Linked DNA regions of Homo sapiens. The protein of the gene in region 1 interacts with the protein of each later gene in a pairwise test. Each region holds a gene or a part of one and is shown in the gene's direction. Other genes may lie near its edges.

Evidence for each region. Proteins that work in one complex are often made in the same cells at the same time.
Region 2: the proteins of ERGIC3 (region 1) and TMEM128 interact in binary tests that used the Homo sapiens proteins (3 or more experiments, as listed by UniProt).

The regions. Positions count from the first base shown.
Region 1 is NC_000020.11:35,552,078-35,555,257, forward strand, and holds part of ERGIC3 (endoplasmic reticulum-Golgi intermediate compartment protein 3), read left to right. Parts: intron 1-2,294; coding exon of another isoform or gene 2,295-2,309; intron 2,310-2,966; coding exon 2,967-2,998; intron 2,999-3,180. UniProt on the Homo sapiens protein: Possible role in transport between endoplasmic reticulum and Golgi. Positively regulates trafficking of the secretory proteins SERPINA1/alpha1-antitrypsin and HP/haptoglobin.
Region 2 is NC_000004.12:4,234,949-4,238,282, reverse strand, and holds the end of TMEM128 (transmembrane protein 128), read left to right. Parts: intron 1-347; coding exon 348-447; 3' UTR 448-456; intron 457-1,205; exon of another isoform or gene 1,206-2,026; 3' UTR 2,027-2,741; downstream 2,742-3,334.

The DNA.
Region 1 (3,180 bases):
AAAGAAGACAGAATCTAGTGCCTTACATATGTGGAAAGTCCAAACTTAGCACCAGGAGGAAGGGCAGGCTCTGTAGGTACAGGTAGGGTGGTAGCTGGTGTGGCAGAAGTACATGGAGAGTCTCTTCTGAGTCTTCCCATCTTCTCCGTGTTGTAGGAAGGAAGGTCCTCAGTTGAGAATGAGGAGAGAGGGAAGGAGGTGTTGGAGATTTGAAAGAAGAAAAGATGTGACTGGTCACTTGGGGGTGGAAGAGTGCGTGGACTGGGGAGATTGAGTAGGATTGATGCAGCCCTAGGGCCTCCCTGGAGTCCGCGGCTGTGAATGCAAAGAGAGCGGTCAGCATGGTTGTCTGTGTGGGAATGGACTCAGTCAACAGAACATTGCAATTGCATGGGGTTTGGTGTTGCCAGGTGCCTGCAAAGGTGAGGGAGTCAAATATGTAAAGAACTCATCTTGATTCTGGACCACAGCATATGAGCTAGGAAAGGAGGAAAGACAGGATGTGGAGAAGCCAGTGAGGGGGCAGGAGGAAAAAGGGACTACAAGTCCTGAGTGTAGTGTCAACAAGTTATTGGAATTGGGGAACTGGAGGAAATTAGAAAGCTGGTGGAGCATGAGTTGCTTGAAATTGAAGTCACAGAAGGGGCTTTGTTAATGACAAAGTTTAGGGAATGGCCAACAGAGCAAGTGGCTTGGGTAGGCAGAGCACAAGATCAGGGAGGAAAGGATGTCCAGGAACTGGGAGGCCCGGGTACTGGAAGGATCATCTACGTGGATATGGAAATCACTAGAACGTGTGACAGAGGTAGTACAGGAGAGAGTGACAGGCAGTTGCCCAAGCTGTTGAAAAATGGCATGGGAAAACTGTTCTGGAGGTTCCATATCGATATCTAGGTGACTGAAACAAGCAGGGCTGCTTTGCCCTGAGCTTCAAAGCTGGGGATTTTTTTTTTTTTTTTTTTTTTTTTTTTGAGGCTGGAGTGCCATGGCACAATCTTGGCTCACTGCAGCCTTGACCTCCTGGACTCGAGATCCTCCCACCTCAGCCTCTCAAGGAGCTGAGACCACAGGCACATGCCACCATGCCTGGCTAATTTTTTTTTTTTTTTTTGCAGAGACAGGGTCTTGCCATGTTGCCCAGGCTCCTGGGCTCAAGTGATCCTCCCGCTTGGCCCCCCAAAATGTTGGGATTACAGATGTGAGCCATTGTGCATTTTTAAGGCAGATAAAGGGAAAGTGATCTGGAAGTGGCAGTAAGGAGCAAGAAAGACTTCTCTTTAGGCCAGGGAAGAGGTTGTGTATGGAGAGAAGATAGTCGCACGTTGAGGGGATGCCAGGGAGTTAGTGCCTGAAAGGAAGAGCCAGGCTGAAGCAAGAAAGTGAAGAGGAACCCAGGGGTTGAAGGCAGGGTTGGGGAAGGTGGGAGTTGGTGTCACAGTAAAGGATGGACAGAGCTGCACAGTGACAGAGCCCAGGGTATGAAGATGGCCTCTCAAAATGGTTGAAGTGAACAGGAAGAAAGGGCCCCCTGGAGGGTAGCTCTGCTGGTCTTCAGGGCAATCTGTGGGGGTGGGGCTGTGTTGGGGAGGGGCCAGTGTGGGGGCTGGAGGACCCTGCAGAGCTCTGGGACCCCCTCTTCACTCTGGAGGAAGCTGGGAGAAAAGGGTCTTGCTGGGAGGGCAGGAAGATGATCAGTGTCAAGCTGTTGGCACAAGGTCTGGCGGGCACTCAGTAGACACACAGCCAGAGTGGCAGCCTCTTGGCCTGGGACTGTTAGACTTGTGGATCCCCGGGCCGGGGGTGCTCTGTATTTGGAAGGATGTATAAATGCAAAGGTACAGTTGCCCAAGGCCAGAGATCTGGCTGAATTGAGGCCTGGGAGTGAGTTTCTAACATCCTTGTTGATTGGGGCTGGGGTGGGTAATAATCTCTTACAGTGTAAAGTTTACAAGTATTTTTCCATCTTAGATCCCACGTGATCCTTAGGACAGCCCTTTGCAAAGGAGAACACTGAGGCCCAGAAAGGGCAACTGATTTGCCCAAGGCCACACAGTCAGGAACTTGGCTCTTTGAGCTCTAGGCCTCTTGTCCTTCTAGGCCACTATTTTGCTCCTCTCTGGCCAGATTAGTTCACTCTCGAGGAGGGGCCCAGAAGGAGGCTTGTTAGCTGGGGCCAGACTGTGTTGCTGAGGCTGAATGTTCCAGTCTTCCCTCCTGCAACATATCTTGCTCTCATAGTTCTCATTGTGAAGCTCTGAATCTTTCTTCTCTCTCCTCCCTCCCCCATGCTGCAGTACATGCTGTGGAGAGTAAGTGGCCCTGCCCCCATGGAGGCCAAACCCCTACTTCTGGGGCAGCCTGCCCTACTAGAATGGCGGGGAGGTTGGATGGGGCTGTGATTGGGTCTCCTCTGACCTGGCTGCTGGGTGACTGTAAAAGGTCTGGGATGTATCTTTGAAGTATGGTTCCTTGCAGCAGGAGGGATTGAGGCTAGAGGGCAGGAATAAATTGTTCTGGAACAGTTGGTACAGGGTCCCCATGGGATTTCTTCTGGGGAGCTTTGAGGGTGGAGGCAGGGAAAGTGTGGATGGCATTCTCAGATCCCACCTCACTTTGAGGTTCAGTGATTTGCCATCAGCTCTAGTTAGTGAGAGCCCATAGTCGGTGGGTTTTGTTTCCGGAGATGCAGGCAGGGCCATGGTGGTAGTCAAGGCATAGAGTTCCCTGTGGACGTCAGGGAGGAACCAGGGTCTGTTCTAAAGACTCCTGAGGAGGGCGTGAACTCTCACACAGGCCCAAGGCTTGCCCTTTCTGGCTGTCCTTAAGCAGGACCAGGAGGTGCCAGGCTGGAGAAGGAATGAGGGGCAGAGAAGACAGGTGGTTTGCAGTCCAGGGGGAGGAAGGAGGAGGCCAGTGCTGCTCCTACTAATGACGCCTTCTCCCTTGCCTTCTCCCTTCTCTCCTAGTCCATGACTTGCAGAGCTTTGGCCTTGACAACGTACGTACCAGATGGAAACCATGGAGGGCAGGTGGGGGTGGGAGGCTTGGTTGCTGCCTTCATTTCCTTGTAGGAACATCCTGGGATGGGGTAGTGCATATGGAAAAATACACCACGTTCTGAATGGGGATCCAGCCTGAGGGTTAAGCGAGAGTGACTTTTGAACTGAACTCTGAGCAGGC
Region 2 (3,334 bases), on another chromosome or scaffold:
TAGTTTAGTGTGTGATGTCATAAAAATGGGCTGTAGCCATTTAAATTATTGTTGAAGTCAGAAACTAAGAGACTTCAGTTTCTATTAAGCCATGTCAACCCCTATTAGGAGACCTTTAGTGGTTCCAGTTCCAGGGCCTTCTTGAAGAAATTGTGATACTTGTTTAAGTATATCTAGAGTTTTCCTTTCCAGCATTGGCTAAGTCACATACTTGAGAAATATGATACATAGAGAAAGTTGCTGACTGGATGAACTTTTCTACATTGAATACTTTAAATCTGGATTCTAGAATAAAATATATTGATGCATATTGGAGTTGTCAACTGTTTATGTCTTGTTCTTTTCAGCTTCAACATTGCTTTATGGCATGTGTGGTCGTTTTTCACTCCATTGTTGTTGTTTACCCAGTTTATGGGGGTTGTCATGTTTATCACACTCCTTGGATGATTTCCGAAGGTAAGATATCTGGAGTGGTTTTTCTAAAAATGAACTCGTTTGAAAAATGTCTTTTATGACAATTTTCAGTGGATGGAGCTGTAACAGACTATTTGTGAATTATTTTCAGTCATGTTTACACCAGAGTTGTCCACACTAGAATTATCCATTCATTGAACTCTGAGATAGACTCCTTTTTGTTTTGAGACAGCTTCTCACTCTGTTGTCCAGGCTGGAGTACGGTGGCATGATCACAGCTCACTGCAGCCTTGACCACTTGGGGGCTCAAGCAATCCTCCCACCTCAGTTTCCCAAGTAGCTGGTATTATAAGCATGTGCTACCATGCTTGGCTAATTTTTAAAAATTTTTTTGTAGAAACAGAGTCTCCTTATGTTGCCCAGGCTGGCGGGGGTTGGGGGCTGAGACTCTTTCTTTTGTAAAAGTTGGTTCTAAGTGACTACTTTTTAGAGAAGGTACCCTGCCTTTCAAAGACCTCATAAAGACAGGATTTGTACCTTCCAATATAGTTGAATTCACACATTAGACCATTTTATGTTGAAATTATATTAATTTGTGTCAGCTTATATTCAGTGACTGTTGGCTGGATCATTCTTAAGAAATGGGAATACAGGAAGAATGAACAATTTTACCTAATTGGGAAAAAAAATTCTGCCATCTTCTAATTATTCTGACTTCCTCATAAAAATGTGTTGGATGACACAATCAGCTTTCGTTTGGTGTTATTTATAGAATTTCTGCCTCCCTACAGATCACCCCATCCTGAGATCTGCTGCCTTACACAGTGGAGGCTGTTTTCTGAGTGTCGGATAACTCTGTTATTAAATAAGTGTATATTGAGAATACTCACTCCAGATGCTTAGGGGCATGGTGAGAAGGACAAAGATAGTGCCTCCTGTCAGGTCACTTACATCAGAACTTGCAGGAAACCTGCTTTATACAGCAGTTGACAGGTGTGGAAACTGAAGCTCATGGAAATAAAAGTTAATACGCTAAATTTTCAAGGAGTTAATGAAAACTGACATTTCTGCTAAAAACAGCATGTTCTCCCTGTGGGATTTTAAAGGAAGGTCAGTGGTAACTGTGTAAAGAAGAAATGGACATACTCTCATTGTTAGCAGTCTGAAAATAGTTGCTAGCACCTCCATGCCCACGCCAATGTCTCCAGCCTCCTTCAGGCACCTTGCTGTGTCTTGGGACCACTGGGAACCCTCACAGGAGGCCCTTCATTCCTGTACACCTGTGGTGCCACAAGCGGCTTTGGGCCCGGAGGAATCCTACACATCTCAGAACACTTCCTCACCTGACCCTGTCACCCATCTCCCCTTCTCGTGTTCTCAGCCCCTTCTTTGACTCTTGAATTTTGAGTTTTTACAGATGTTTGGGAGCTCTTACTCTGACATGAAGTTATAATTGGTAATGGAGACTCAGACAATGTTGTAGATTACAGAGTGAACTATGCTTTTTAGTGTTAAATGCAATAGCTTGAGATACAATGTTTTACTTGGTACATAAATGCTGGTTTTCTTTCAGATTTAAGGACATACACTTTTTTTTTTTTTTTTTTTTAAGAGACAGGGTCTTCTATGTTGCCCAGGCTGTCTTTGAACTCCTGGGATCAAGTGATCCTCCTGCCTCAGCCTTCGAAGTAGTTGGGACTACAGGCCCACGCCACCGTGCCTGGCTGGACATGTAAATTTGAAGTGAATGGTTAAACATCCAGCTAGCTGAAAGCATGGCAGACCCTAACAGAAAAGCTACAGTGTGTTTTTGCAGCTATGAAGTGAATGGTTTCCTGGGGAAAATTGTGACTTTGTATAACTGTTGTTGAAACCAGAATAAATTATATTTCACTTGCATATGCATAAATTATTAAAATTTTCAGAAGTCAGTGATACAGAAGTACTATTTTGCAATGTTAATCTGTTTGAGTCTTTGGAGAAAGTGGTTTCATTGTAGGTACATAGTGCACTGTTAATATTTTAAACAAGTAGTTCACTCTTCCATTTAAGGGATAGCAGTTCCTTGTATAAAATGACTGGATGTGTATAAAGGAATTATGTTGTCATGTGCCTTTAACCAGCTTTAGTAATTACTATAATCTCATATTTATGATAGTTTTGTTAGGTGACAGGACCAAATGAAAATATTTTATGTTTTCTCATCACTTTAGATTTTATCATTATGTACATTACTGGGTTTTTAGCATTTCCTAATGTGAAGTTTTAATCACTTTTAAGTATACATTTTTTTCTGTATCATTTAAATAAAATATTTTTATAACTTTCTTGTGAGTTTTGTTCATGCGAACTTTGGAATAACTTCTGGTTTTTAGCTATTAGCACTTTGAATTAACTGTAGCAATAACAAGGGCTAACTCTGTTCTTCAAAGACCTTATAAAGACAGTATTTGCACTTTCAAATGCCAATATGTCTACATTAAATCTAAGCAGCATAAGCATTGTGACAGAATGTATCTCATGTTGATTGTTTTCTCTGTAAGGTGACTTCTAATAATGACCTGACTTAATCACCACTTGTGTCTGGTTCAGATCATACCCTGCCATTTACTAGCTGCAAGACCTTCAGTAGTACAGGTTTAGTATCCCTAATTTCAAAATCTGAAACTTTTTGATGACTGACGTGACACTCAAAGGAAATGCTCATTGGAGCATTTTGGGTTTTGGAATATAATGCAAATATTCCAAAATCCAAAACACTTCTGGTCCCAAGCATTTCAGAGAAGGGGTAGTCAGACTGTAATCTTTTTTCAGCTGTGAAGTGGGAACGATATCTGTCTTGTAGGGTTGTGCGTAATAGTAATAATGTTTGTAAAACACCAATTACAGTGCCTGACACAGTAGGTGTCCACTCAATAAA